7 linked regions of the Homo sapiens genome follow. The protein of the gene in region 6 interacts with the protein of the main gene of each other region in a pairwise test. Each region holds a gene or a part of one and is shown on either strand. Other genes may lie near its edges.

Region 1 (3,741 bases), on a different chromosome or scaffold from region 6:
GAAAATCTAAACTCCTCTATTACTGCAATGTTCTTTTCCCAATACCACGTGGTCATTCCAGGCACTGTGGTCAATGTCTGCTGCCCTTGAAGATTTATTCAGACTTGAGTTTTAATAAATGACTTGATAAGGATATAAGCACCTGCAAAAAAATTTTGGCATTTAAAGGCATATAATAAATGACATAAGTAGCATAAAAACCAGGAGGTATTTGATAAATGTTTGTGGAGATTGTTGACAAAGGTGTCAGTGGTAAAAGTAAAGAATGGTTTGTTTAATTTTCTGTTTTAGAACATAGTTCTCCTGTCAGCAGAAGAAAAAAAAGAACAGACTATTGAAATAAAAGAAGAAGTGGTTGGGCTAACTGAAACATCTTCCCAACCAAAGAATGAAGAAGACATTGAAATTATTCCAATCCAAGAAGAGGAAGAAGAAGAAACAGAGACGAACTTTCCAGAACCTCCCCAAGATCAGGAATCCTCACCAATAGAAAATGACAGCTCTCCTTAAGTGATTTCTTCTGTTTTCTGTTTCCTTTTTTAAACATTAGTGTTCATAGCTTCCAAGAGACATGCTGACTTTCATTTCTTGAGGTACTCTGCACATACGCACCACATCTCTATCTGGCCTTTGCATGGAGTGACCATAGCTCCTTCTCTCTTACATTGAATGTAGAGAATGTAGCCATTGTAGCAGCTTGTGTTGTCACGCTTCTTCTTTTGAGCAACTTTCTTACACTGAAGAAAGGCAGAATGAGTGCTTCAGAATGTGATTTCCTACTAACCTGTTCCTTGGATAGGCTTTTTAGTATAGTATTTTTTTTTGTCATTTTCTCCATCAACAACCAGGGAGACTGCACCTGATGGAAAAGATATATGACTGCTTCATGACATTCCTAAACTATCTTTTTTTTATTCCACATCTACGTTTTTGGTGGAGTCCCTTTTGCATCATTGTTTTAAGGATGATAAAAAAAAATAACAACTAGGGACAATACAGAACCCATTCCATTTATCTTTCTACAGGGCTGACATTGTGGCACATTCTTAGAGTTACCACACCCCATGAGGGAAGCTCTAAATAGCCAACACCCATCTGTTTTTTGTAAAAACAGCATAGCTTATACATGGACATGTCTCTGCCTTAACTTTTCCTAACTCCCACTCTAGGCTATTGTTTGCATGTCTACCTACTTTTAGCCATTATGCGAGAAAAGAAAAAAATGACCATAGAAAATGCCACCATGAGGTGCCCAAATTTCAAATAATAATTAACATTTAGTTATATTTATAATTTCCAGATGACAAAGTATTTCATCAAATAACTTCATTTGATGTTCCATGATCAAGAAAGAATCCCTATCTCTATTTTACAAGTAATTCAAAGAGGCCAAATAACTTGTAAACAAGAAAAGGTAACTTGTCAACAGTCATAACTAGTAATTATGAGAGCCTTGTTTCATAACCAGGTCTTCTTACTCAAATCCTGTGATGTTTGAAATAACCAAATTGTCTCTCCAATGTCTGCATAAACTGTGAGAGCCAAGTCAACAGCTTTTATCAAGAATTTACTCTCTGACCAGCAATAAACAAGCACTGAGAGACACAGAGAGCCAGATTCAGATTTTACCCATGGGGATAAAAAGACTCAGACTTTCACCACATTTGGAAAACTACTTGCATCATAAATATATAATAACTGGTAGTTTATATGAAGCAGACACTAAGTGCTATAGACACTCTCAGAATATCATACTTGGAAACAATGTAATTAAAATGCCGAATCTGAGTCAACAGCTGCCCTACTTTTCAATTCAGATATACTAGTACCTTACCTAGAAATAATGTTAACCTAGGGTGAAGTCACTATAATCTGTAGTCTATTATTTGGGCATTTGCTACATGATGAGTGCTGCCAGATTGTGGCAGGTAAAGAGACAATGTAATTTGCACTCCCTATGATATTTCTACATTTTTAGCGACCACTAGTGGAAGACATTCCCCAAAATTAGAAAAAAAGGAGATAGAAGATTTCTGTCTATGTAAAGTTCTCAAAATTTGTTCTAAATTAATAAAACTATCTTTGTGTTCTTTTCTGCAACAGATGATTCCAACATGGGTGTTTGTCTATTCTTCTTTACTCTTGAAACATTAGACCATGGGAGGCTCTTACAGCCTTGAGTTGATATTTATACAACCCAAATCTAGGTTTGAACGGTGAGGTGTCAGGTCATCAAATATTCATGTCTATATAGTCTTACACAGGTTCTCAAAAAAAATGTTCATGGGATAGGTCATTGATAATGGATTCCTTATTCTGAGAACTCCAGACGACTGAAATATATGAGAGAAGGAAAAGGACATAGTAGGAGCAGGCCTGAGAAAAAAATGAAAGTCAGAAATCTTTAAAAAAATACAAGATCTTATTTCTATCTTATTTTTTCTCCTCTTCTGAAATATATATGAGGATTCCTCTCCAAACCCATGGTTTCTCTAAGAATTTTGAGTCATTTGTATGACCTCAAATAATTAGTTTTAGCTGACCTCACATAACTCCTTATAATAGGAGACATCTTTAATGTCTGCTATTAAAGAAGGATGAAAATTCCTATGACCTTCTCCCCGATTATCCCTTTGGCAATATAGAGTCAAATAATAACATTGACCAATAGTAAACATGCTTTGCCAAGAAGTAGAAGATATATTCTCTAGCCTTAGTTTTTCCTCCCAATTTGCATTTTTGTAAAAATAATGTTGTATCCACAAAGGAAATAAACTTTAAAAACCCAAGTGCACTCATTGACTAGGAGGCTGACGTAACTTATTTTCATTTTCTTCTGGTTTTCTTATAATCTTTGTTTAAAATAAGGTGATAAACCATCCCAGTTTGTCTGAGTCTGAGGGATTTCCTGGGATACACGATTTTCAATGTTAAAACCAAGATAGTCCCAGGCAAACAGGATAGTTGATTATCCTACTTCATAGTAATAGATTACTCACTTACAATCACTGCATAATATTTACTTTTTACATGTAACAGTATATCATAGATTTTTCCTTATTGATACATAATTTCATAAGCATCACTTAATTTCAACTTAGGATTTTATGAATCAATATAAATTTACCATTCCTCTATTATTGGATATGTAGGGTATTTCCTTTTCTTTCTTTATACAAATCACTTTTGGAGCACAGAAATCATGAGCAAGATACATGTTTCCTCTTATTATTCAAAATGTAGCTTTACATTTAAAGTCTTGTCAACATTGACCAGTAGGAATTACTAGCACCTGTTAAAACCCAGAAAATTTACCTTTAATTTCACATCAACAAGAGAATAGTCAAAGATCCAATACACAGAAATAGTTACTTCAGATTCATTTAGCTTGAGTTCATTTAAGAAATCTGATTTGTTTTAAATTCTTGGTGTATAACATAAAACACTGATGGAGGGGTTCAAATCTGAAATTTTCCTAGGTTAAGTCTTCAATCCTTTAGTGAGCTTCCTTTTATGGAAAACTTGGTTGTGTGTTCTGAGCTAAAAAGTACCAAGTCATAAATGAATATGATAGAATCATGTGGTGGCAAAATCAAAGCAAAGTTACAATTATCCTCTATTGACCCCAGCCTACTCAGCAGTGCAAAATGCTGAGAAAGAATAAATAAGTTGTCTACCCTTAGAACTTACTACCTGGCTGGAGAAAGAGAAATTAGTTCATCAGGTACCTGTTATGGGTAA
Region 2 (4,538 bases), on a different chromosome or scaffold from region 6:
ATGAAGAAGCAGCATAAAATTCTACAAGTTTCTGTTTATAAAGGAATGTGCTTACTCTTCCTTAATATAAAAATCTATCTAGAGTAGATTAAATTTTAGCATATCACAGATGGAAACACACCCATGTACATTCTTTTGAAGGGGTGGGAAAACAATTGCCTTCTCCATATGGCTGTCTTCTCTACCTCCCCAGAGATGAAGGCGCGTGGATCAGTGAGTTTGGGAGGAAGAACTGAGTACCCGTAGCCAGCCCCTTCCCCTCTTCAGTGCTTTTCTGCCTGCAGAGCACATGCACCTTCTCAGGTCTTCCATATTTTAGGTTTTACAGGATAGGCCTGGGTTGTTCAGCACTGGGGGAGTTGATATGCTCAACTCTGACAGTTAAGTATTAGCAAGCCAGACGGGTGCGGTGGCTCATGCCTGTAATCCCAGCACTTTGGGAGGCCGAGGCGGACGGATCACGAGGTCAGGAGGTCGAGACCATTCTGGCTAACACGGTGAAACCTCGTCTCCACTAAAAACACAAAAAATATCAGCTGGGCGTGGTGGCGGGCACCTGTAGTCCCAGCTACTCGGGAGGCTGAGGCAGGAGAATGGCGTGAACCCGGGAGGCAGAGCTTGCAGTGAGGTGAGATCACGCCACTGCACTCCAGGCTGGGCGACAGAGCAAGACTCCATCTCAAAAAAAAAAAAAAAAGAAAAAAAAAAGTATTAGCAAGCCAACAGCTGCTGCAGATCCAAGCCACGTTCTCCAATATCACTTTTATTAGTTAACAAGAACAAACAATAAAGTGAGATTTTAATCTCTATCTTCTAGGCTCTTATGTCTTTCACCTCTTTTCATGTCATTAACAAAAACTTTGCTTGAGAAAAATGTAACACATGTTCAATATAAAATCATTAATGGAAGAATATATTCACTTACCAGATGTGCTCTGGCAAATACAATAGGGAGTCCAAAAGCTGACACGACAATGCCCGTTGTAAGAAAGATGGCAAGTTCCTTACAAGCGTTACTCATAGCATCTGTATCATCCACTAATCTTCTTGCTATGCAGTATGGAATAGGTGAAAGGATGTAAAAAAATAGAACAAAGAGGGGCCAGTATTTGCTAGAAAAAGAAAAATAAGTTAATGTAATTTTTGCTATGTCATTTTCCTACACACAAAATATGGTCTTTTTAAAAAATCAAGATTCAATCGCTTGACTTCTAATGGATGATACCCAACCTTAGCATAAAGCTGAAACAACCCTAAACTTCCCTTACAACACGAGGAACTCCCAAATTACAGAAATCAAAATACAGAAAAGAAGCTAAAAGTAAGAACACTTTCAGTCAGAATATAGAATTTATCACAATAAAAATAGATGGCTTTTACTCTACATCTAGTTAACTGTATTGTACCACAGTCATTTCCTGGTTTTGATAACTATGGTTATGTAAGATCTTATGACTCTGGCAGGCTGTGTGGAGGGTACAGGGGACCTCTGTGTATGATTTTCACAACTTCTTCAGAATCTAAAATTGTTTCAAAATAAAAAGTTAAAAAGAAATAGATGCCCTTAAAACTACCATAGAATAAAATAGGTATCATGGTGGAGATCTGATTGTACAGAGGCTAATGATAAGCAGCTACTTATGTTTCCTAAATTTTTTTTTTTTTTTTTTGAGACAGAGTCTCGCTCTGCTGCCCAGGCTGGAGTGCAGTGGCATGATCTCGGCTCACTGCAACTTCTGCCTCCTGGGTTCAAGTGACTCTCCTGCCTCAGCCCCCGTGACTAGCTGGGATTACAGGCGTGCACCACCATGCCCGGCTAATTTTTGTATTTTTAGTGGAGATGGAGTTTCACCATGTTGGCTAAGCTGGTCTTAAACTCCTGACCTCAGGTGATCCACCCACCTTGGCCTCCCAAAGTGCTAGGATTACAGGCATGAGCCACTGCGCCTGACCATTTCCTAAATATTTTAAGAAAAAAAATTAAAAATTGAATATATGCTTAAGAAAAATAATTCAAACAGTACAAAAGCACAAAAAGTAAAGACTAAAAGTTCCAAATCTCCTCTTGCCCACTTTCCTATTGAGCTTCTCAGGGACCCTTCCACATTTCCACATAAACTTTAAAATATGAATGGGTCCCTGCAGTTTTCTAACAATATGTCTTGAACATATTTACATGTTAGCACTTACAGCTCTTCCTCATTCTTTTTAAGACTGCCTAGTATTTCCATTAAAAGATTTACTATAATTTAACCATTTTTCTTTTGAAGGACATTTAGGATGTTTTCAGAATTTTTTTTGGCTCTTATAAATAACGCATAAAACAACAAAACAAAAACAAAAACCAAAAAATAAACAAGGCTGCTTGAACATCCATACTCTCCCCCACTAAATATATCTTTGTAAACATCTGCAAGTGGGTTTGTATCAGAAAGTCTAACAAGTGAAAGGGCTAACTCAAAGAATATATACTTTGAGAGCTACAAGCAAACTTATCTCCAAGAAAACTATCTATGTGTACTCCCCCCACAGCACAAAAGAGTCCCTGCTTGCCCTGTCTCTTGTCTTTGTCAATAGATTTTGTTTAGTTTTGAGTGAGGCTGGGGATATTTTTATGTGCTTATTAGCAATTTGTAGTTCTCTTTTTGTATTTATTTTTCTATTGAGTTGTCCATCTTTTTCTAATTTATCTAAATGTTAAAATGTTAACTTTGAGAAGTTCTTTCTATCCTAAGGAAAGAAATTTTTTTTTTTTTTTTGGAAACAGAGTCTTGCTCTATCACCCAGGCTGGAGTGCAGTGGCGTGATCTTGGCTCACCGCAACCTCCATCTCCTGGGTTCAGGCGATTCTCCTGCCTCAGCCTCCCGAGTACCTGGGACTACAGGCATGTGTCACCACGCCTGGCTATTTTTTTGTATTTTTAGTAGAGATGGGGTTTCACCATGTTAGCCAGGCTGGTCTTGAACTCCTGACCTCAGGCAATCCTCCCGCCTTGGTCTCCCAAAATGCTGGGATTACAGGTGTGAGCCACCGCACCCGGCCGGAAAGTAATTGTTTACATCTCTCTCTTTTTTTTTAATTGTGTTTTGACTGCTTATGGTATTTTTTTGCAAAAAGACATTTTAAATTTTCTTGTAATTAGTATTATCAATAGATGTTAAAAACTGAGCAGGAGGGCTGAGGTACTGTGTAGCTATCTTGCCACTGCAGACTCAGCAGTAGTGAAAGAGCAGGTAACAGCCAAAAATATTATTTGCATCTTGGTGTCCTAAAATCTTTAGAAACAAACTTTAAGTGGTGATTTTTACAAAGGTATGTGTTTGGTAAGTGAACATTTCTCTGCATTACTTTTACAGTAGTAAAAAAACATTTTTTTAAGCTTTAAAAGTAGAAAAATTTTACCCTTAAATATTCAGAAAGACAAACATTTTACATACTTGTATATTGGAAGGGCACATCCAAGCATCAAAAACATCAGTCCGATTGCTCCTCCAAAGGACAAACTAATCAAAGCTGCAAAGCAAATAAAAAGTGCAACAGGAATATAAATTAAATATTATTTTTATTAATATCAGCAGTCTGAACATTATCTGTAACCTCAGAAGCAAAAATCCCTAAAACGTATTAATAGCAAGTTGCCATCAGAAGTGTAAGTTATCTAGTCTTAGAATAAGTCTTCTGTGGTATCTTCAAGGCAAAATGAAGTGACACTGGCCTTTTTTTTTTTTTTTTTTTTTTTTGTGAGATGGAGTTTCACTCTTGTTGCCCAGGCTGGAGTCCAATGGCTTGATCTCGGCTCACCACAACCTCCACCTCCCAGGTTCAAGTGATTCTCCTGCCTCAGCCTCCTGAGTAAGCTGGGATTACAGGAATGCACTACCACATCCTGTTAATTTTCTATTTTCAGTAGAGATGGAGTTTCTCCATGTTGGTCAGGCTGGTCTCGAACTCCCGACCTCAGGTGATCCACCTGCCTTGGCCTCCCAAAGTGCTGGGATTACAGGCGTGAGCCACCACATCCAGCCAGTGACACCGATTTTTAAAGCTCTAACCTACTGCTAGTACCCCACCATATTCCCCAGACGCTGGTTCCCTTTCTAAAGAGTCAAAGTCCACAGGCTCAATGCTCTTCTGGGCATTAGAATTATATTTACTTCACAGATCACTACAGTTTTGAAAAGCAGTATGTGGAGAAACTCCACATGCTCAAGTTTACTGGACTTTAGAAACCTCATCCTATAGGAAAACCTCTTCTAATCAGCTCCTGTTTCTGGCACATACACTCTCAATGTGCATAAAACTGACCAGAAAAAATGCCCGAGAATATCTGTAGTTAATGATTTTAATCAATTAATTTTGTTGCAAATCTTTAAATAGTTTGCAAAAGTAGAGCTGGGTTTCCTTCCCTAATCTACATTAGAAAATCTGTAGGACAATGGGTTATAATCCTTCTGAGGTATCACTACTTTAACATGTTATTATAAGCAATAGATGCATTCTACAGGTGAAATATAGTTTCTAAAGCTACGCGCGCACA
Region 3 (3,408 bases), on a different chromosome or scaffold from region 6:
CCAAAGTGCTGGGATTACAGGCGTGAGCCACCGCGCCTGGCCTTTCCTGGCTGCTTATACTCACTCACCCTGCAGAAAACACAGAGACCAGGCAGGCGCCGCTGTGGGTTCTGAAGAGCGTTCGCCGCAGCGGTGGTGAAGAGCCAGAGCGGGAAGCCAAAACGGCTCCTCCTCGGGCTGGTCCCAGCCTCTCAGCGGGGAGGAGGGCTCTAGTCCTGGCGTGCAGACAGTGTTCTGTGGCTGCCGTGTGTTGGACAGACTGGAAAGACCGGAATGCCACTGGGGGCAGGTGGGTTAGGTAGGTTGGCCAGAGGGCTCACATCTGGGGTTGAAGGAAACGGGATAAAAGCCACTGAGTTTCCTGGGCCGGGACCTGAGCGCTGCCCGTGTCTCCACCTCGCCCTCCCGTGTGCGTGGCTTTCTCCTAGCTCTTGGGCACATTCTCACGTCCCCCCCATAACCCGTCACCTTCATTTCTGCTGGTGCTTTTGGGAGTCAGACCTACAGACTGCATCAGCATCACCAGGCAGTTTGCTTTCTGGAGCCTTTTCCAGAACTGTCAAGCAGACTCTGGGGGCAAGGCCTCGGGATCCTCATTTTAAATACAAGGTTTAAGCCCTTCGTTTCAGGATGGATTTCTGCAGCCACTACTTCCCAGCTACTGTCCTTCGTCCTGCCCGGGTTTTCAGAGCCTGATGCTGCCACTGGCGACCCACACCCCCTCAGCTGCTTTTCAGAACCACACGATAAAATCTGCCCCGAAAGCTGCTGCAGCACTGTCTGCGCTCACAGTGCCCACCACACCACCGCCCACAGGCCAGGCCAGCCAGGCTTCCGATTCTGCCCTTTCCTGGAGACCCATCCTCCTCCCTCCGGGAGTGATGCCCGCTGGTCAGCTGGAGCGAGCCTCTCTATTGCCGAAAAGCCTTTTCTGACACTCCTGCATCTTTAGTTTGGGACATCTCTCCCACTACCAAACTTAAACCACATGAGGGCAGGGGCTTCATTTTTAAGCAGTTGGCTTTGGTGAGGCTGGTGGTGATGAACTAGCAACACCATCTTGCCCTGGTAGGTGACTTCCCCCAGCACTGAGTTGGAACAAAGCAGAAGCTTTCTGTGTGGAAACAGCATTCGGTTTGGTGATCCTTCTATGTAAGAATACGATCTGATGTTTTCTAAGTTAATTAATACAAAATACATATTGATAAAACACTAGATAAAAGATCACAGATAGATTCATTACAAAATTTTTATAATGGGTATAAAATCACCAGTCCCCTTGCATAAGCTCTAACCACAGTGAGCTACCCTGTTTCAGCTGTAACACAGTCTCCTGTGAATCACAAGATACATTAACTACTGATAATTTTTCTGTGAAGGATCTATATTGGAAGGCGTCTGACAACCTCCACCAGCACCTTTTGATGAAGAACTGGAGTCTGACTTGGTTCGTTAGTGGATTACTTCTGAGCTTGCAACATAGCTCACTGAAGAGCTGTTAGATCCTGGGGTGGCCACGTCACTTGTGTTTATTTGTTCTGTAAATGCTGCGTTCCTAATTTAGTAAAATAAAAGAATAGACACTAAAATCATGTTGATCTATAATTACACCTATGGGATCAATAAGCATGTCAGACTGATTAATGTCTACTGTGAAAATTTGGTAGTAAATTTTCATTTGATATTAGATATAAATATCTGAATATAAATAATTTTAATATACTAGTCATGATGTGTGTTGTATTTTAAAAATTATCTGCAACCTTAATTCAGCTGAAGTACTTTATATTTCAAAAGAATGAATAACATTGATAATAAAATCGCTACTTTAAGGGGTTTGTCCAAAATAAATATTGTGGCCTTATATATCACACTATTGTAGAAAGTATTATTTAATTTAAATGGATGCAGGTTGTCTACTAAAGAAAGATTATATATAACTATGCTAATTGTTCATAATCAACAGAAACCAAGATAGAGCTACAAACTCAGCTGTACAGTTCGTACACTAAACTCTTCTTGCTTTTGCATTATAAGGAATTAAGTCTCCGATTATTAGGTGATCACCCTGGATGATCAGTTTTCTGCTGAAGGCACCTACTCAGTATCTTTTCCTCTTTATCACTCTGCATTGGTGAATTTAATCCTCTCCTTTGTGTTCAACTTTTGTGTGCTTTTAAAATCAGCTTTATTCTAAGCAAATCTGTGTCTACTTTAAAAAACTGGAAATGGAAAAAAAAATAAATCTTTGCCAAATCCTTCAGATTACTGTATTTACATATGGTTTAAAATCAGACGTCATGATAGCTTCTTAATGAAACCAGGACTGGTCCCTATTTTGACATTATCTTTCCTACAGCAAACTTTTTAGAAAGGCTGCCTGCCGCCTTGATGTTTCACCTTTCCACGCTTAATTCGGGTGTTAAATCTAACGTTTTCATTTGTAAAAATCTTTGTTGATGCTACCTTGGAAGCAGTCATCTCTCAGTCTTACATTTGGAGAATGTGGATGGCATGACATCAGAATTCCTTTATATAATTTAACTTCAGAATAGTCTGAGATCATCGAAGCACGATGGTCAAGGGAATTCCGTTTTTGTTTTAGAGCAAATATGTTTGCTGTTTGTCTTTCATCACAAACATCAGTGGAGTTTCAGCACCTTACAGAGCTCAGTGAACCCCCTGGTCACCATCAAAGTTAGCACACAACAAAGCCAACCACGTGTCCCCCTCACAGATGACAATGGCTGAACTCTGAGTGAAACCACCTGTATGGCCGGGCACAGTGGCTCACGCCTGTAATCCCAGCACTTTGGGAGGTTGAGGTGGGTGGATCACCTGAAGTCAGAAGATTGGCCTGGCCAACATGATGAAACCCCGTCTCTAATAAAAATGCAAAAATTAGCTGGGCGCAGTGGCACGTGCCTGTAATCCCAGCTACTTGGGAGGCTGAGGCAGGAGAACCGCTGGAACCCAGAAGGCAGAGGTTGCAGTGAGTGGAGATCATGCCACTGCACTCCAGCCTGGGAGGGAGAACGAGACTCCATCTCAAAAAAAAAAAAAAAAACAACCAGTTGGAGGTACTAAGCTCTGGGACTGGGCCAGTGTGATGGCTCCACACCTGTAATCTCAACACTTTGGGAGGCTGAGGTAGGAGGATCACAAGTCCAGAAGTTCGAGACCAGCCTGGGGGAGCATAGCAAGACCCTGTCTCTACACAAAATACAAAAATTAGCCTCGTGTGGTGGCACACACCTGTAGCCCCAGCTACTTGGTAGACTGAGGCAGGAGGATCCCTTGAGCCCAGGAGTTCAAGGCTGCAGTGAGCCAGGATAGTGCACACGGCCTGAGCAAGAGCAAGACCCTGTTTCAGAAAAAACAACTCTGGGACTGGAGTGCTTTAGACAG
Region 4 (5,202 bases), on a different chromosome or scaffold from region 6:
GTTACCTTCTTAAGTGACCCTTTTAACAATTATTAGAGGCTTACATTTTCCAGACCCTTCCAGATTAACAATATCAACATCAAGAATCAAAGTACAAATTGTAGACCTAGACTGACTAATTTCCTGTCTTAATATAGCTTAATAGTTGGGAATTTAAAAGTTAGGAACTCAGAAAATATTAGTGATGTACCCCATTTCTGATGGAAATGTGGAGGTTTGTCATTGGCACTGTTTTGGCTGGATTACGCTACTTCATGCTTAGAGATATGTTAAAGTGTGTACGGCTGTTTGACGGCTCAGACATCTTTTATCTTTTTTTTCTTTTTCCAAAAAAATTTCCAAAGTTAGTAAAGGCTAAATAATGACTATTTCCTATATCCATAAGGAACTCGTGAAGGACGCATTTTATGTCATGAGACTGAGCATGAAGACGTTGTATCCTAGGGATACATCTGCCACAAATCAGAATCAGAACAGAAGGGACCACAGAATTTGGCCCAGTAGACTGTTGCCCGGCTCCTGAAATGGCCCGTGAATGCACAGATGGACTTCCTGAATTCTAAATCAAAGGTTGGGCCACATATGCATACCAAGGGCATCTTCATCTAAGCCTCTGGCTTGAATCCTCTAGGCACACATGTTGGCTAAAAGGAATCCTGCCAACTCGTGGGCTTAAAGCTTGAACTTCTTCCTTGTTGGCTTCCCTATTCCATTAACTAATTTAAAGCCTTTATTATTATTATTTTTAGCTCTCATTATAAACAATCATGAAATCTATAAAAATTAGGTCTATAATACTTTGTATTAATATACTAATATAATATAATAGCCTCCACAAGTAGATATTTGAAGAAAACAACATTCTTCTGTGGCACTACTTTTTGGCTTTTAGTTTCATTTAACAAATATTTACTGAATGGCTTATGGGTACCATGAGCCAGGCAAGTGGGACCTACACAGTGCCTGGCATCCAGGGCCATTCAGAAATGTATTTTTTCAGATTCTTAAATTACTACTTTAAAAACTCAGATGAACAAAACACAAAAATTCAGCCATAATTTTATTTTTCACTTCTTCATTATAACTAATTAAGTATAAAAATGCTCGTACAAACTGTACAAACTTTAAACAAAAAAAGGACCCCCCAAAAATGTTGTAATATAAGTATAGGGAGAAGAGTAAGCCAGAGAAGAACGATCATCAAATGAGCTCAGACTTTATCTAGTATAGAGGCTGAATCAGAATTTTGCCTGTGATGAGTTAGTCTTTCTTTTTTATAATGAACGTATAACTCCAAGTTTGCTTAAAGGTTAGTATGGTTGGTCATTCTTACAAATCAGCTCTGTCATTCTTCATCTGCCCTCACTAAAAAAGAACAAGAAAAAAGAAAAAGAAACCCAGGAAACCTGCAAATAAACTCTCTCGTGGATTTGATGCCACATGCAATCACACAGTTATTTATATCTTAACCCCTGATGTGCTTGTCCAAATCGTAGACATCTAGTAAAATCTGTTGAACTGAACGAACTAACAGCAAGGGAGAATGGACTCAATCTTACCTTACAACAGGTTTCTTTAATGAGAACAATAAATGTGTGCGTTCAGCTCTTCAAAGCACTTTGCCTTATATAGAGGAATCAAAAATAATAAGCCCCTCAAAGCCAAAACACAAAAATGGAATATCCCACCCACGTGCTGGATCTCAATATTTCCAGATTACTTCTGAGGTTGGCAGAGGCTTCGGCGGCCCTACGATGTCCAGCATTTAAAGGTGACTAGGGCATGGGCTGAGGGAGGCTCTGAGACCAGGCAGCCTCACTCACAAGCCCTCCAAAAGGCAATTTGCTTTACAGATCAACTAAAAACGGTGTTCTGAGTGTGGTGGTGGCGGGGGAAAAGACACTACTCTACTTAGTAAAATGAAGAGAATTTAGTTACAAAAAAGATATTTAAGAACCTCTATGGGCATGATCACAAATAAGCTGAGACACCCAGACTAGTTGTATAATTCAGCAAATTAAATATTGTTTTTTTCAGAGGGTGCATGGGGCTCCGCAAGACTGCATTAAGAGACAAACCCTTTAAGAAAAGACTGTCACTTGTGCCTCTTTTCCTGTTGACAGGCTGTTGTCTGAACAATGAATCCTGGAAGCACCTAGGAGAAGGCACCTAGGAGAAACGTCTTAGGGAGTAGTCCCGCGGGTCCGCCCCAGGACAGTAACGCTGTCAGTTTCCCCGCCCTTTGCACCTGTAGTGCAGACGGTACCAAATGCGATGGCTTTGAGACGTCCTCTAGACATCGGAGCCCATCATTTACCACAAAGAACACTGAAGTACTTACTTTAGCAGAACATTTTCCGAAGAAAAATTAACAGGGAGAGGAAATGAAGGACACTAACAAACAGACCCCATCTCTAGAGTCTGAGATCAAACCCAAGTCCGATGGAGCCCGGGCATCTGGTGGAGGAAAGCGGGCAGGCATAGCCCCAATCCTGGTCCTCAACAAGATATTTCTGTGAATGAATCCCTCTGCTCCCTGGAGGAGGGCACATTACATATCCCTTTCCTAAATCAGAACTGAAGCAATTTGCCCATCATTCGCACACCTCGACAGGGAAAGGCAGGATTCCAGTGTCTCATCAGACCCGGGAAGAGGGGAAGGGTCGCTGGCGCAGTTACCTACTGGGTTTCCGGGAGCTAGGGAAAACGCCCCTGGGAAACGCAAGTGTTCAGCGCCACATAAAACTTCCCCGGATTTAGGGCCACCCTAAGACGGGCGAAAAGACTCTCCAGCGCCTTAGCAGGTGCAAAGCCAGCTGTCAGTGTGCGCATGGCGAGTCCCCGTTCCCGAGAAGGGACGCAAATGACCCTAGAAAATCAGACAGGAGCAAAACAAACCCAAGAATGACCCTCCACACACCACAAAGGCAAAAGCAAACAGAAGGCACCTAGACACACTCTGCAAAGTGTAGAACTGTCTACACTTGCATGGAGGAATCCACCTTGCAGAGCGAGGGTAGACCTTCCCGGTTCCCAGTGTCTGGGACCGAGGCAGGTCAACACGGGGCCAAGGACATTGCACTCAGGGCCCCTCGCGGCTCCTCCTGCAGCCCGTGGAGTCACCCCAAGACTCGGAGAGCCGGGCTGCGATTGCTTCTCGGGACAGTAAGGACACCTCAAAAGGGATAGATTTGGGGGTGTTTCTCAGAAAGGAGCCACATCTCCGGGAGCCCAGATCTCGGGGGAGAGTCTGGGAGGCGGCTCGCCTCCAGGACCCGAGGCCGCCCCAGGCAAGGAGTGGGGCGCTCTCCGCGTAGGGCAAGTTCACCCCCAGAGCTCGGGACCCTGCAAGTTTCCCTCACTGACCTGCAGGTCAGGACACGCGACTTCCCCGGCAGGTCTCCTGCGCTAGCGGTGGGGCGGTGCTCCGGTCTGGACGATACGCGCCCGCGAAGCCGTCCTCGGGAATGTTGGGCGCAGCGGCGCGGCGCGCAGTCTGGGCGCACGGCGGACAGCAGGCGCAGCGGGAGTGGATCCGGGCTGCCGGCCCCGCACAGCCCGCGCGTCGTCCCTCCGCCCCTCCTGGCCGCACAACCAATGGCCGCGAGCGGGTCCCACTCCTCACCGCCCCCTAGTCTCGGCTCTAGCGGGCGCTTGGCTCTAGGACGGCGCCCAGCTCGGGCGAGGGAGGAGCTTGCGCCACCATTGGAAAATCTCGGAGGACGAGGAGGCGTTGCGCAGGGAGCCCATCTGGGGAAGGCAGGTGTAGTGGGTGAACTTTTTTGTGTGTCGGGGGGAGGAGGGGGGAGTGGGGAGGAGGGCAGTTTTTTTAGGGCTCAGGGGCCTTTCTCTGCAGATGAAAGCATCCACTTCTTGCCAACTTTCTCCTCCTCTTACATCTTTTATGAGTTCCTCGCAGCCCCCACCCAAAACAACTACTCTGGGTGCATCATCGCAAGCCCAGCTCTGACTGAGTTGCGTGGGGCATGGCCTCATCCTGTGATGAGCTTAACCACAGACAGCCCTTGCTCAGCCTTCGCCGCGTGCGCCTCTGAATCCTATACCAAATCATTAAATGAGTCGAATAGGATTGGAGTTTCTGTCATTGCCAGGGAGACAGTCAGTCATGAGTCCCTACTAGGGAACTGGCGTAGAGAGTCATATATCGTAACAGAACTCCGGAAAAGGAGGCTTTAACTGATCCGACCAACTTCAGTTACCAGTCAGTGCTGCTACCTTGACCAGAAGACTCTCTCTCTGTATTCCTGTTTTTCAGCTGGAAAATGAGAGACTTCGATCACTTGGTGGCTGCGGTCTGTTTCACTCTGACATTCAACAATATTGTTGCTCTGTGGCCTGTAAAGGGCTGAACTCCTGGGAAGTGTTGGTGTGGCTACCTGTTCCTTGAGCCCCTACTCCATCTGGTTCTGCTGTCTTCACCGTGAGACCTATTAGTGGCCAGAAAAGCAAATCATGCACAATACAGAATCAGGCCACCCAAGTCTCAGTGACCACCAACACATGCACGTATACTGCCACCCACCAGGGCCCGGCTCCTAGGAGCCTGCTACTTCCACCCATGTTCAATTGTTCTCCACGTAGAGATAGGCAGGGGCACCTGGCTTAACTCTGAAGCTCCGTGGTACATAAGTAAAGGCTCTCTGTCTCTCCCCTTCCTTCTCTAGGGCAATTGTGGGTGGGTGTGAATCTCTCTTATGTGGATCCTTCTGTGCCTGATGTAAAATGCAGGAGGATGGAATGAGCTGTGTTGTCAAGAGGGCAGATTCAGAGAACCACTTCCCTCCGGGCACACTTGGATTGGCTTCCTGAATTTCACCTGTTCATGTGCCATTCTCATGAGTTACCTTACATCCATCTACAGTCTGCTCCATTATGCACTTAGTAAATTTTACCTTAGATTTTTACTTGGCTTCATCGTAAGCAATAATATCTATGAAATTATTGGTTTGTGAGATACCAGTTGTATTTAATATTTTAATGCACAATGAAATGAAGGCATAAGTCTTCCATGCTAAAATCATTCTGAATATCACTGGTTGTTCTCACAACTCACTTTTTGAAACACTAAGGTGTATGGGGGGGCAGTTAGAACTGTTGACCTTCAAAACAGTGGTCCTCAAAATTTCTTTGTGCATAAGATTCCTAGGCCCCAACCCTATTGTCTGGTTCATTCATACTCTA
Region 5 (4,538 bases), on a different chromosome or scaffold from region 6:
GTGGGATTGAAGAAATACATCTTTTATTTAGTTTAATTTTAATTAACTTAAATTTAAATAGTCACATCTTGCTGGTGGCTACCATATTGGACAAGGCAACTCTAATCAAAAGTTTACTGCAGAGCAATGGCATGTACACATAAACCCAGTCCTTTTCTTAGAAATAAGATGGAATTCTCTATACCCAATAAGTTCACTACCTTAGTGCTCTGAGCCTGTATCCCCTTACTATCTGCCCCTACAGTCTAGCCTGTCATACATGCCGGGCTTAGATTGTTCACTCACCATTTCATTTTGTCCATGTTGTCCTATCCCAAGGGCCACAGCCTACCCCTCCTGTACCCACCCACCATCCCAGCACTCACCACCATGTTTGGTTGCCACTTCCCCATGCTGTTCCTCCTACTCACATGAGGTGGAGCATTTTCTCAGGTTACCAACAGCCTTGACATATTCTTCTCCTAAGTATTTTTCATATGTGTTTCTGTCATGAAGTTTGGCCAAACATACTGTGTCATCTCTGAACAGAAGGTCCTTGGTTTCCGACCGGAACAAACAAAAGTTGCCCGAGCAGTCAGTTACGTTGCTTCCAAATAGGTGCTGTCAAGTGAACAGAAAGTCCGTGAGGACCTTGTGGTCTTTAGCAGCTGGGAACACATGGATGAGAAGAGTCTGAAAGCTCTGAACCAGCCCTGGGGAAAAAGGGAAGCTACGGAGTATGTCTTGGGAATTTTCCACCTCCTTTATCTGCCATTTATCCACTTAGGGCCCCAGCTGCATGCTTTCATGATGCCCCCAAAATCATCTATAGGGTCCCTGGTCCCACCTTCCTCTGATAAGTCCCTCCCACCCACACCCATGCCTGCCTACTCTGACCTCTCTTCCCCACTTCATTGCCCTTCACTGGGGGCTGCTTATAGGAAATGAGAGGACAATAACATGTCCCTTCAGATGTTATTGTCAAAGAAGATGTTAAATGTGAACCCTCCCAGAGGAGTGGCAGAGGTAGTTCTTAAAAGTTCATGTTTGACTGCATTTTGAATCCTTTCTTGGGCAAGCCACTCAGCTTCTCCAGATCTCCAAAGGTTGTAAGTGAAATGATGACTGCAAAATGTTGAACTTTCCATATAGCAGCTAGGAAATGTATGTTAAATGCTTATTATTGTCATGTACCTTAAAAGGACTTCAAATATACTCTTATTTTTTTTAAAAAAAGGTAATGGTGAATCAACAGCAGGCAGCTATGCCCAAAAGGAAGGTGATGTGTGTGTGTGGAGGGGCCTTTAGGATTAGAATACTCAGGCAGCCCCTGTCTTCAACAAGGCTGGCCCTGAGTGGTTGTTCCCCCAGAGGGCAGGCTCTCCGAGGGCAAGGGTCCTGTGTTTTTCAGACTGTTGAGAACAGTGCTCAGTCTGCCTAGGCAAGAGGAACAGAAATCCACTCTTCATGACTCGTATCAACAAGCGCTGGGAAACAGGAGCTGTCTTCTTCATTTTCGGGAAGGACAGGAGTAGGGGAAATGAGGGTACCCCTGAACAAGGTTAGGGGGAGCAGAAAGGCAGATTCCTAGTCCCAAGAGTACATGGATCAGATCTAATCACCAGTGACCAGGAGCTAGAAGCAGAGCTGGGCCTGAGAGGTCTAGTTCCATAATTACACAGCTAACATATTTTGAGCACGTCCTATAGGAAATGGAATTTTCCTATGCCGTTTGGGTGCATGTCTTCACTTAATACTCATGTTAACTGAGAAGTAGGTAAAAATATTATTATTACAATTTTATATATGAGGAAGCTGAGGCATAGAGAGGTTATGTAACATACCCAAGATGGCACAACTAGGAAGCTGTGGAGCTGTGATTTGAACCCTGATACTCTAGTCCACAATGCATGGCATGAAATGCACAATGCATGGAATTCTAGTTTTCAAAAAGAAAGTGCTGGAGTCATGGCTGCACTTTGTTGTAAACTCCCCCCGAATAGCCTATGGCCATCTAGGAAGAAAAGGTGGGAGGACCTGGCTGGTCCATACCTGCTGTTGACGTAATATCTTGTGGACGCAAGCTTCCTTATCTTTCCGTGTGACCACAGCGTGATTCGGGGCTCTGGCCAGGTGGCAGTTCGCATACTCCTCCACAGGTTTCCTGGTACCATCAAGGCACAGCAACTCATAGTCTTTTTCATTCAGATTCTTAGCCCATGGATCAGGGTTTTTTCCTAGGGACAGGAAGAAGGTGGTTCAGCTGATGGCTTTGGTCAAGGTGCCCCGCTGGGGAGATGGAACTGACTCAGTGGTGTGTAGAGAACCTGGGCCTTCTCGCCAGCAGAAGTGCCCACACTGGGGTTACAGTGATGTGGACAGGAAGAGACACCCATGTGGTCTACAAGGTGATGCCAGACTCACAGTGACCAGGAATGATTATTGACCATCCCCTTCCAACCTTCCCTACCCAGCCAGGTGAGAATGAACTACATTCTGCAGATGCTGTTCAAAAAGATCTTCAATTCCACTAAATTCCAATTCCTTCTGTACCTCTTGCTCCAACAGAGGAAGAATGTGACGCTCTAAGCCAGGTTGATCAATTTCTGTGCTGTAACACATGGCATCTCCAAACAAAAGAACTTTTCCTCAGAGAACACCTTTGGAATCTGCACCAGAATTTTAAATCTGACTCCCTTGTTCCAGTTCTAAATGAGAATGTGCACACACCTGTGTGATACAGGTCTGTATCCCATCTCGGCCCCTTTGCCTCTTCTTTTCTGTATTGTCTCTGAAAAAAAAAAAAAACTCACCCATTCTTAGGGTTTCAGCTCCTTCCTCCTGAGCCACTTTGCAAATATGTTTTGCTAATTTTTATTTCTCTCCCATAATTCAGAATTGCAACCTTTTTAAAAATGTATTTTTCATTTAATTTTGTTTCTTTAACCGAATAACTAATACATGAGATCACACTCATAAATTTTTGAATATCTCTCTATATTAACTAAAAGCCTCCTTTCCTATACTCTCCAAATCTCACTCAGTCTTATAGTGCTAGTCTTTAATATCACATTTGCGAGTTTCCATCCACGGCTCATTATATGTATTTTTCTACGTGTGTATATGGATTTCACATGTTTCTAATTTTGTTTAGTGTTAGATCTTGACAAATGTAAAACTCTGTAGCTTTTTTTTCAACTGTTTACATACCTTATAGATTCTTCTTGTCAGTACATACAAATCAAGCTCGTTCTTCTTAACTACTGTATTATATTTCATAGTGTGGCTATAATAGTATCTTTAAACCATTCCTCTTTTAATAGGCATCTGAGGTGTTTACAATTTTTTGCCACTAAAGTAGCGTTAAAATGAGTGTTACTGGCATATAATTGTGCTTACATAGAAGTGGAATAGTTAGTTCAAAGGGTATATGTATTTTTATTTTATTTTATGTTATTTTATTCATTTATCTATGATACTATGTTCTCAGCCCTCTCCAAGGCACAATCTTATTGGAGGGGAAAATAACACACATACCAAAACAAAAAATTCAGGGCAGGGATAATAATATTTTATATTTTGTAAAACACTCTAGATGCTGTGTGAGCTCAAACCAGGGCTTTGAGAACAAATGAATTAAGAAGCTGGCTGGAGGAGGCAAGATTTCAGTTGTCTCTTATAGTGTGTGTAGGATGAGAGGAGGAGAAAGGAATGCCTCTCTGCGGGAGGAAAGGAGAGTGCAGGCGAGACTGGGGGCAGGTGTGTGCCTGGTGTTTCTAAGGGAGAGAGGAGACCGCCTCTGGAACCATCTCAGGCAGTAGGGTATGTGAGGCACTCAGGCAAGAGGAAAAGTGGGTTTGTGAGGACTTATGAATGGAAATTGATGTTAATGAATGAGCCAGAACCTAAAGGTAGAAAATTAAGAAAAATCAAATGGGAGGTGATTCAGTCTGGCTAGGAGGGCATCTAGAAGGGCATGTTAAAAATATGCTTTTTCAATAAAAATAATACACGTTTATTGGTGGAAATTTATAAAATGCCACGTAAGTATTGGGAAGAAAATTTTGAAGCATTTGTAATTTCATAGTCTACGCCTTCAAAATTGGTACATTTCTAACATTCTTTTTCCTACACACACCTATAATATGCACATACACACACACACACACACACACACACACACAAATTGTGATAAAAGAGCCCATGTGGGCTGAGCGCGGTGGGTCACACCTGTAATCCCAGCACTTTTGAGAGGCCGAGGTGGGCGGATCATGAGGCCAAGAGATGGAGACCATCCTGGCCAACATGGTGAAACCCCGTCTCTACTAAAAATACAAAAATTAGCTGGTCGTGGTGGTGCACGCCTGTAGTCCCAGCTACTTGGGAGGCTGAGGCAGGAGAATCACTTAAATCTGGGAGGCGGAGTTTGCAGTGAGCTGAGATCACATCACTGCACTCCAGCCTAGCAACAAAGTGAGACTCCATCTCAAAAAGAAAAAAAAGAAAAAAAAAAAGCCCACGTGGTTTTGTGTCTTCCTTCTTGTATATACCATAGCACT
Region 6 (4,860 bases):
GCTACAGTTCTGTGAGACAGGCTCTATCAGTATATTAGATGGGACCATTTCTGCAGCTCAGACATTCTCAGCAGCAGCAATGTTGATCCCAAATAGGTGAAAACTAGTTCTTGGGGAACAACAACAACAAAAAATCTCACAATGGTTTGTGGCTTTCTTTTCCTTCTTTTCTTTCTTTCTTTCTTTCTCTCTCTTTCTTTCCTTCTTTCTCTCTTTCTTTCTTTCTCTCTCTTTCCTTCTTTCTTTCTTTCCTTCCTTCTTTCTTTCTCTCTCTCTCTCTTTCCTTCTTTCTCTCTTTCTTTCTCTCTTTCTTTCTTTCCTTCCTTCTTTCTTTCTTTCTCTCTCTCTCTTTCTTTCCTTCTTTCTCTCTTTCTTTCTTTCTCTCTTTCCTTCCTTCTTTCTTTTCCTTCCTTCCTTCCTTCCTTCCTTCCTTCCTTCCTTCCTTCCTTCCTTCCTTCCTTCCTTCCTTCTGTTTTTTGAGACAGAGTCTCACTCTGTCACCCAGGCTGGAGTGCAGTGGTGTAATCTCGGCTCACTGCAACCTCTGCCTCCTGGCCTCAAGTGATTGTCCTGCCTCAGCCTCCCAAGAAGCTGGGTTTACAGGTGCATGCTGCCATATGCGGCTAATATTTGTACTTTTAGTAGAGACAAAGTTTCACCATGTTGGCCAGGCTGGTCTCAAACTCCTGACCTCAAGTGATTCTCTTGCCTCGGCATCCCAAAGTGCTGGGATTATAGGCATGAGCCACTGCGCCCAGCCAGTTTCTGTCTTTGTAAAGGGCCACAACACATAAACCGACAGTGTGTTGGTTGCACTGAAATTGCATAAGCAGGCAGAGGAATGTGCTGTGTAGGAAAGATGTATATCCAAAGAGGCTTCTGAAGGGGACAAGGATGTAAAAAGTTGAAGAGATCCTGCATTAGCTAAGATCGAGGAGCATCGGGTGCCCACTGTGAGTCACCTGCCCAATCATTGACTCCAAGTATCGTAATCTATACTTTTCAAGAAGTCTTCTTTACTGGGGAGAGGATGCACTCACACAGATACTCACTGTGCTTTGCATTTACTTCTGTTCCTTATCACAGCCTGTTTGCATTTGTCCTGCTCAGACAGCCTCATCTGACTGGGCCAGGTGACCACAGGTGACACACAGATGGAGAACAGCAGAGTGGCTTAGGGGCATGGGTGTCAGAGTCAACTGACACCAGCTTCTGGTCCCACTTCAATCGCCCACCAGCTATGGGATCTCGGGTAGGAGATGTCACCTCTCTGGGCCACTCCTTCATCTGAAACTGGGGATAATGCTGGTACCTCTCACAGGGCTATTGAGAGATAGAAGGAGATGATGTGTCAGGCCAAGTCCTTTAGACAGGGCAGCTGTTATTTTCATCCCTGCAAGCCAGATCCTCTCCCAGCATCCAGGCATCCTGGTGTTTGGCCCTTTTCCTCCAGAGTCTGGTGTTTTCTCCTTCCATCCACCAGTCCCACCCGGCCCAAGCACACCACCAGAACAAAACAGGAGAAGAAGGAAACACTGTTCTCTTTTGCTTGCTTCCACATTTATTTGGGTAATTTTTCTTCTGTCATTGTTCATAAATGTCTCTGATGATCCACATTTATTGAGCAATGGGAACTTTCTGGAAAAGGCACTGTGGGAGCAGAATGCGGCCTCATCCCTGGAGCCCTGTCTCCCCCGCTCCTGACTCGCTGGCTGGGAGCAGCTCTGAGGATGGGGTTCTCCCCTCTCCTGCCCCTGCCACTCACTGGGCAGCCCCCTCAGACCTGGGCACTGCTCTTAGCTCCTCTGCCACCCTCAAGAAAACACAGGAGCTGCCTGCTGCTATGAGGACCTCATTGTTCTCCAGAGCAGCCTCTCACCCTGACCCCTTCCCAGAGCCCAATCCATAGTGTGTGGGTGGATGGGGATGGAGGTGAGATCGAGAGCTGGGCTTTAGCGCGCATACCCTTAGGGAGGCTAGATGTCTACTCTGCCCCCAAGCCCCATCGGGCCCCAGCTCGCCACTCCAAGTCCCTCCTGGCGTGAGCGAGGAAGCGCCCTGAGGATGACACGCCAGCTACACCCTCCTCCCCCGGAGGACCTAGTTTTCAGCACAGGCCACCTGGCCACCAGTTCCACAGCCCTGTGAGTGTTCACTGGTCTTTCTTTCAGCTGGTCGGTCCGCTCTCTGCTCCTCCCCTCCCTTCTGCTCCTTCAGCTCCATGCTGCTCTCCTGCTGCCACTGGCCCCAGAGCCCACACAACCTCCTCAGCAGCTCATGAAAGTCGGCTTGGAACCCGGAGGAGGAGAAGTAGTAGACAAAGGGGTCGACACAGGAGTTCAGGGTGCTGAGAAGCGTCACGTAGATCCTCCACACCGGGCTTTCACCGCAGATATAGCCCACGACATGGGACACGTTGTAGGGCCCAAAGCAGACAAGGAAGTTGAGCAGCGTGGCCGCCACCAGCCCCGCCACCCTCCTCTGCCGGCGGTGGCTGCCCCCTCTGCCGAGGATCCACACCAGGCGGCTGTAGCAGTAGCTGGTGATGATCAGCGGGACCACAAAGAGGACCACAGCCATCTCCAGCCGCACGGGCAGGAGGATGGCTAGCTGGTCCTTCCAGAACTCCAGGTAGCAGGTCCCATTGGTGCCCTGGCTGTGGGAGATGTCCCCTGAGAATTCTATGACGTAGACCACGCTGCAGTGAGCAGAGGCCAACAGCCAGCAGGCCACACTCACCAGACCTGCCTGCCCCAGCCTCGGCCGGGTCTTGTACCACAGTGGGTGGGCCACACTCAGGAAGCGTTCAATGCTCACAGCTGCCAGGAAGAGGGCGGTGAGATAGATGGTGGTGAAGAAGATGAATCCAGAGAGTGGGCAGAGGATGAAGGGCAGGGGCCAGTGCATGCCATTGGCTGCCTCCACCATGCGGAAAGGCAGGAACAGCAGCAGGAGCAGGTCCGAGGCGGTCAGGTTGAGCAGGAGCACGTCCACGGCCACCGGGCGGCACCGCAGCTTGCCCACGAAGACCACCAGGGCCAGCAGGTTGAGGGGGAGCCCCACCAGGAAAGTGAGAAGGTACACCGAGAAGACGAACCAGTGATTGCCGGAGAAGTAGGACTGGTCGGGGCCTGTATCCATGGTGGTGGCCACTGGTGAGAGAGAGTAACATGGAGTTGGTAGTGGGGGCCCTAACGGCCTCTGGCCAGCAGCATCTCCCCTAAAAGGGCACGAGGTCACTACGCCCACCCCTCTTGTCTCTGGGTGCCTTCCAGGCGGGGTCAGCCTGCCTGTCTTCCTGAGCATGCCCTGTCCCCTGTCCCTTCCCCAGCAGAGAAGCACCAAGGTGCTCCTCCACCCAGCCCCTCGGGCCCAGGCTCACCTGCTTCTTTGAGACCCCAAATGCTCTGCCGCACAGCACCTTGCTGTCTCTCCAGACCTAGTGCAGTTGGCTATTTATCCGGCAGAACTGATAAAGACCTGGCCGTGCCCATGACATCACTCACTGTTGAGCAGTGGCACAAAGATGCCTTGAGCTCCGTTGCCAGGGCTGGTCAGTATGCAAAAAGGGGAACAAATTCCACAACTGCGTGCCTCCCTCCTTGCGCAGCCTCAGCTGGGATGCTCCAAACAGGCCCCAGCTGACGTCTTCTTCCCCTCCCCTCTCTTCCACTTGAATTTTGTCTGATTCTCTAGAATGGCACTTATCCAGTTTGCCTTTTAAGGGCACAAAGCATGAGCCAGTGACAGACTGGACTCCGTGAGGTCTGTTCCTTCCTGACTTTGTGATGTGGGGGAAGAGATGTGTCTCTTCTTCCTCCCCTACAGAACAGGGATTGTCATAGTACCTGTACCATATTTCAAAGCATGAACACATGCAGATTAAAACATATATACAGGTAGATTAAAATGTTAATAATATAGGTCAATTGCTTTTTGAAAATATTTATTTTAGATTCGGGAGCACATGTGCAGGTTTGTTACATGGGTATATTGCATAATACTGAGGTTTGGGCTTCTATTGAACCCATTACCAAAATTGTGAACATAGTACCCAATAGGCAGTTTTCCCACCCTTGTCCTCCGCCCTCCCTCCCCCACTTTGGAGTCCCCACTGTCTATGGTTTCCATCTTTAATGTTTGCGTGTACCCATTGTTTACCTCCCACTTAAAAGTGAGAACATACAGCATTTGATTTTCTGTTTCTGTGTTAATTCACTTAGGATCATTCACTTAGGCCTCCAGCTGCATTTATGTTGCAGCAAAGGACATGATTTCATTCTTTTTTATAGCTGCATAGTATTTCGTGATGTGTATGTACCATTTTTTCTTTATCTAGTCCACCATTGATGGGCACCTAAGTTGATTCCATCACTTTGCCATTGTGAATAGTGCTGTGACAAACATACACATGCAGGTGTCTTTTTGGTAGAATGATTCCATTTTATGAAAAATGACATTGATAATTTGGTAGGAATTGGGTGGAATCTGTAGATTGCTTTGAGCAGTATGGACATTTTAATGATATTGATTCTTCTAATCCATGAACATGGAATGTTTTTCATTTATTTGTGTTTTTTAGTTCTCCTTGTAGAGATCTTTCACTTTCACTTCCTTGGTTAGATGTATTCCTAGGTATTTTATTTTTGTGTGTGGCTATTGTAATTGGGATTCTGTTCTTTATTTGGCTCACAGCTTGACAATTGTTGGTATATAGTAATGCTACTGATTTTTATACACTGATTTTGCATCCTGAAACTGCCAGTCATTTATCAGGTCTAGGAGTATTTTGGAGGAATCTGTAGGGTTTTCTAGGTATAGAATCATATCATCAGTGAACAGAGATAATTTGACTTCCCC
Region 7 (4,928 bases), on a different chromosome or scaffold from region 6:
CAGCTTCCCACCCAGTGGCAGAGTAGCTGACTTCAGATCATATCTGCTCTCTGTTCTTCCCCTTTAAACTGACTTGACTTCTTTTTAAAGCTTTGTAAACAACAAAGCTCCCAGTTATAGCCCCATTCCTAGCAGCTACCTGGTTCTATCTGTTTCTGCTTTAAGAAGACCATTCTAAGGCTGAGCTTTGAGAAACATCCACTGCTGTTGGGGTGTCTTGGGCTGTCTCTTACCTTCTCTGTCAGAGCTTAGCCTGGCCTGTTTCCTGACCACAAGAGAAAAATCATGGGCAGCCTGCCCAGCTTTGTAGTCTACTTTCAGTGGTAACTTATACAGCAAAAGCAAGATTCATCTGCAAATCTTGTAACATGAACCTATCACAGCGCAATACTCTTCTACGATAATGCACCAACCACCCAGTGCATTTAGCATGTAACAGACCGCTGTCAAGAGCACCTCCCCCTGTTTGCTCTGACATAAAAGAATGTGTAGAAAATGTGATATTCACAAGGAGGAAAACAGAAGATCTAAATCTCAGGAAGAATCAAAAGGAAATGCAACAAGGAGTCATAAAAAAAAAAACAGAAAGAAAGAAATGTGAACATGTAGAACTACATGGAAAAAGCCTGTGTAAAGAATGGATAGGAGCCACGTTGTTTTTCCACATCAAAATCACTCCTAACACCACACTGCAACTATCAAGTCAGTTGATTCCAGACCACAACTCTGTTACACTCACACACACAGTCGTGTCTCTGTCTCTGTCTCCCTCTCTCTCTCTCACACACACACCCACAATTATTCTTCCTGCAAAGCTTCTCAGACTGTGCATAAAAACTAGTTTCAAATCAAAACAACTTAAGTGGATATAACCAATTACTTTGTTCCCCTGAGCCTCATTTCTTGTTTTATTTTGAAAGCTTGATCCTCCTTCCACTCTAACTTCCACAGGCCAAATTCCAGTGGTCTTCACTTGGGATCTTACCTGAGACCAAACTGAATTTATCCTCAAAAGGTAACCCCCGGATATGTCCTTGGACAGCAGAAACAGACCACGTGGGCCAAAGGAAACAAGTCTGTTTCATGATCTGATCTTGGATTCACCCCACTATTTAAAGAGACCCCACAGAAGAAGGGAAGAAAAGGGCCCCCAAAAGACCAGTTAAACAAGAGACAAATAACCAGTCAAGATATTCCTTGATAAGATCCTTAAAAAGTATCTTTAATTGATGCCAAATATGAACAGATCGTAAAGTGACAGAAGCAAGTAAAATTGCATAGATGAAAACTATGCGCATCAATTAGGTTCTCAATTCATAACATTCAATGTCCTTGACCTGACATATTACACAGTTAGAGAAGGGAGAATGCGCAGTAGGTGAAGATGAGACACGTCCTTAACTCAAGGTGGAAGCAACTGGCAAACTCAAGAAATAAAATAGCGTTTTTTCAGCTTAAATGGTTTGTTGTCCTGATGGTGCACTTTAAATTAATACTACTCAATTTTTATTTTTAACCTCAGTAATACTTTATCTTTACTATTAGAGGCATGTCACATGGAGTCCATGTTGTCTACTTACATCTGCTGCATAAACAGTCCCAAAACAGTGCGCTGAAGAGAAGAAAGGTGCTTCTGCAAGGTTTGGAGAGGAGACAACTTTGACCTGGAATATTTTACAAGAGATTTCTTGTTTTGTTTTGTTTTCTTTCCATACACCATTTCTTCTTCTTTGATTGTGGTACAAAAGTTTTCTATACTCTTTGAAGTTTCACGTCATAAAGAGTAAACTCCTAGTTAGCTCCTAAATGAAAATCACTGTGACTAGGGTTAATCTCCTTAAAGCGAAAAGCCCTGAGGTCAGCAGGGCCTCACCCCTTACATACATGCTGGACTTCCCAAGAAAGCCCAGGGTCATTTTGCCTGAGCAAAGAGGCTGGCATTTAATCCCAAGGCTTCTAAACTTTATATCTGTACCCTGAATTAGTTTGCACAGTGACCCAAGGTAATGGAACAGTTTTGGTTAACAATTCAGCTCCTGTTTGCTTCTTTACAAAAATGGTAAGTAACATACATTCTTTAAAGGTTTACCTGAGTCATACTAGACATGTTCACATATACCCTGAAATTCCATGATATAAATACAGGTAGTAATATGCCACATGGTGAATGAGAGTTCACCTCCTGAGATCACAATTCAACTTGGGTTGTGTCTGGTCTTAAAATTTTAGTTTGTTTGTCTTCTTAAAATGAACATAAACATCAAAAGACTTCATTCTTGCTTGGAAAAGCCTGAAGATAACATGCTTGTTTGGCAGTTTATATTCTTTCTAACAATTTTATACTATGGATGGTTACCACCCACCAATTCTCACCACCCCAGGAATAAGTCATTCCTGGAAGAAAATGGGAAAGTGCCTTCTGCTAATGTTCTTTCTCCTTTCTTTCAATCCAATCTACCAAACTAAGAATTAAAATGTAAAATTGTTAAAAAGCATGTGTTTTGAGGTCTCCTATATTAAATGAGAGGGCTAGGAAACTATTTTTATTGACTTTTAGATGGTACCTAATTTGAAAAACGTGTAACTATACACAATGTGAAGAAGGCCTTTTATAGGCTAAACCAAATTTCTACTTTAAAAAAATGTATTCCTCATTTACCATTTACATGTATTTTTTTAATTCTCAAGCAAATCAAGATTGTGACACCACCTGTGCTTCACGTCCACCATAGTGGAATCTAAACCTGCCCTACAATTCATTTCAGGGAAATGACTGCCCACTGGCCAGAATCCTGGAGAAGGACTTGCTATTGGTTTATCTGATTCTGCAAGGCTCACCCACGAACACACTCCCAATGAGCTGATATAACTGAAAATCAGAACTCAAGTCTCCAGGGAGTGCAAGGGGAGTTGGGCACAAATGGGAAAAGGGAGATGCAAAAACAGAAAGTTTTCCTGGCTAGAATTTGTCTTCTAGAAATCTGAGGACAGAGGAAATGAATGTCTTTGGTCTCTCTGATTCAGATCACTTCAGGTGAGTTAACCACTTCAGAGATTCTGGGATGGCTAACAGCCCTGGTGTGACCAACTCTTCTATTGCCACCCTATTGAACTAGGGCCCCAATAGACTGGAAGAGAGGAATTATAGCTATCAGCACATCAGAAGTCTTCTCCTTCTGGAGAAAACACATAGTCAGGACATGAGCTGTTACAGCTCCATGCCTAGGAAGGGGAAGAAAAGGTAAAAAGGCTGCTAAAATAAATATGAATAAGTAAACCAAAAAATAGTCATCCCTTAATAGGCAGTTTTGTTAAGTGCACCTTCAGGTCTACAAAGACATTTCAACACATTACAGTGCGAGGGTAAGAGCTTGGTCAAACATTGCATGCCTATGCTACACAGATAATCCCTGTACTCCATTCTTACTGAATTCATTGCAATGAGCTACAGATGAGCTAAGCAGCATTCACTTTCCTCACACCACCCCAAACTCATAACAACAACTCACCCCCAGTCCCAGACTGACAGGTTCACCGCATGCAGCACTTTTTTCTATATCACATGCAGAAGAATCAACCAGTCCAGAGTGTAACCACGGTAAATATACCAAATACCCAAAGTCAGTCTTGGTGCCGTTTTCTCATCCATTAACCCATCCATCCCACAGTACTGAGTGGATTATTGCTGTTGACAGAGTGCGGTGTTTCAAGTTCTGTGTGCACTAGACCTCAACGTTGAAATGAAAGATCAAGATAACCCCAAGCCTGGGAGGAGGTTGGCATTTTTTTCCTAATTGGGGATTTTTAAGCAAGTAGGAAAGGAATCGCCAGAATGAGTTAAGGTTCAGACGAGAAGGAGACATCACATGGGAGGGTTTAATGCCCTGTAGTCGGATGCTGCGCAGTTCTTGGCCCCTCATCTTCCACGATGTGTGTTGTGTTCATCTCACAGATTCACAAAAGTCACATAGGAAAATAAGATATCCATGTTCTTTCTTTTAATCGAGTTAGCCAGAATGGGTGTAACTCGAGTTTCTAGGGTGATTGCCTCACTGCTAGTTCTAGGACAGGATGGGGGAAAGGGGTGGGAGAAGCAGGACAGATTTTCAGAAGAAGCTGGGCCAGAATGTCAGGTAACAGGCAGCCACATGCTAAGTGCAGAATGAAGATTCCCCACCTCAGGGTCCTTTGAAAGGCTGTGAGTACCTCTCCACCGGTGGGCAGCTGCCGAGCTCCAGAGGCCTGTGTTCCGTGGCTCTCTTTCAGCCAGGAACAGGGTCCCCACCATTCTCTGGGCTGGGTAACGGGGGGGCAGCAGAAGTTAGATGTTCAACCTGTGAAGTGACTGCCAGGTGGGAAGATCATAGGGGCATCAGGAAATATCTGAAAGGGGTAGACCAGGAGGGAAGGCCTAGGAAAGGTTATTATGAACTGAGTGTTCCCACATCCACAACAATGCCTGAAAAGACTGGACCGTCAGAGAGATTTGCAAAGTGCTGTTACCGACAGAGAAAAAAATAAGGAAAGGTGCCAGGAGCACTACACTGGACCTGAGGAAGCCTTGTGTGTCCAAAGTGGCCCTCGATAGGAAACAAATTCCCAAAAAGTTTATCTTGGCTTTGGTGGAGAGAGGAAAAAACAAGTTCACAGTTCATGTCCAGTTCAAAGATGGGTCTCAGTTCACATCCAGCGTCAGGCTGTCAAAGGGACCAATGCTAGTAGATGGCCAGAGAGACAGCACCCTCCTGGGTCTCTCCTCTCCAGGGTTTAGGGTGGTGTGGTCTTCTCACAGTGGTGAAATGAGAGAGCGAGAATGGAAAAAGAAAAAGCAAAAGGTCTGTGCCCCAACCCTTCCCCACTTTTGCTACCTAACTTCTCAGCTGTGTTAAGGAGGCACTTTCTACAGTTCACTGTGGGTACAGGATAAA

What was found.
Region 1: the proteins of GPR42 (region 6) and MS4A1 interact in binary tests that used the Homo sapiens proteins (3 or more experiments, as listed by UniProt).
Region 2: the proteins of GPR42 (region 6) and LEPROTL1 interact in binary tests that used the Homo sapiens proteins (3 or more experiments, as listed by UniProt).
Region 3: the proteins of GPR42 (region 6) and BNIP3 interact in binary tests that used the Homo sapiens proteins (3 or more experiments, as listed by UniProt).
Region 4: the proteins of GPR42 (region 6) and SERTM1 interact in binary tests that used the Homo sapiens proteins (3 or more experiments, as listed by UniProt).
Region 5: the proteins of GPR42 (region 6) and TF interact in binary tests that used the Homo sapiens proteins (3 or more experiments, as listed by UniProt).
Region 7: the proteins of GPR42 (region 6) and KCNA1 interact in binary tests that used the Homo sapiens proteins (3 or more experiments, as listed by UniProt).

The regions. Positions count from the first base shown.
Region 1 is NC_000011.10:60,467,959-60,471,699, forward strand, and holds the end of MS4A1 (B-lymphocyte antigen CD20), read left to right. Parts: intron 1-291; coding exon 292-510; 3' UTR 511-2,794; downstream 2,795-3,741. UniProt on the Homo sapiens protein: B-lymphocyte-specific membrane protein that plays a role in the regulation of cellular calcium influx necessary for the development, differentiation, and activation of B-lymphocytes.
Region 2 is NC_000008.11:30,100,874-30,105,411, reverse strand, and holds part of LEPROTL1 (leptin receptor overlapping transcript-like 1), read right to left. Parts: intron 3,515-4,538; coding exon 3,439-3,514; intron 1,113-3,438; coding exon 926-1,112; intron 1-925. UniProt on the Homo sapiens protein: Negatively regulates growth hormone (GH) receptor cell surface expression in liver. May play a role in liver resistance to GH during periods of reduced nutrient availability.
Region 3 is NC_000010.11:131,966,541-131,969,948, reverse strand, and holds the end of BNIP3 (BCL2/adenovirus E1B 19 kDa protein-interacting protein 3), read left to right. Parts: exon of another isoform or gene 1-294; coding exon of another isoform or gene 295-322; intron 323-1,379; coding exon 1,380-1,425; 3' UTR 1,426-2,265; downstream 2,266-3,408. UniProt on the Homo sapiens protein: Apoptosis-inducing protein that can overcome BCL2 suppression. May play a role in repartitioning calcium between the two major intracellular calcium stores in association with BCL2.
Region 4 is NC_000013.11:36,672,349-36,677,550, reverse strand, and holds the start of SERTM1 (serine-rich and transmembrane domain-containing protein 1), read right to left. Parts: upstream 3,532-5,202; 5' UTR 3,367-3,531; intron 2,207-3,366; exon of another isoform or gene 2,124-2,206; intron 1-2,123.
Region 5 is NC_000003.12:133,773,111-133,777,648, reverse strand, and holds part of TF (serotransferrin isoform 1 precursor), read right to left. Parts: intron 2,217-4,538; coding exon 2,032-2,216; intron 601-2,031; coding exon 411-600; intron 1-410. UniProt on the Homo sapiens protein: Transferrins are iron binding transport proteins which can bind two Fe(3+) ions in association with the binding of an anion, usually bicarbonate.
Region 6 is NC_000019.10:35,369,641-35,374,500, reverse strand, and holds GPR42 (G-protein coupled receptor 42), read right to left. Parts: upstream 3,434-4,860; 5' UTR 3,383-3,433; intron 3,153-3,382; 5' UTR 3,142-3,152; coding exon 2,101-3,141; 3' UTR 1,539-2,100; downstream 1-1,538. UniProt on the Homo sapiens protein: G protein-coupled receptor that is activated by short chain fatty acids (SCFAs), such as propionate. Hence may play a role in the regulation of whole-body energy homeostasis and/or in intestinal immunity.
Region 7 is NC_000012.12:4,914,522-4,919,449, reverse strand, and holds the end of KCNA1 (potassium voltage-gated channel subfamily A member 1), read right to left. Parts: 3' UTR 1,194-4,928; downstream 1-1,193. UniProt on the Homo sapiens protein: Voltage-gated potassium channel that mediates transmembrane potassium transport in excitable membranes, primarily in the brain and the central nervous system, but also in the kidney.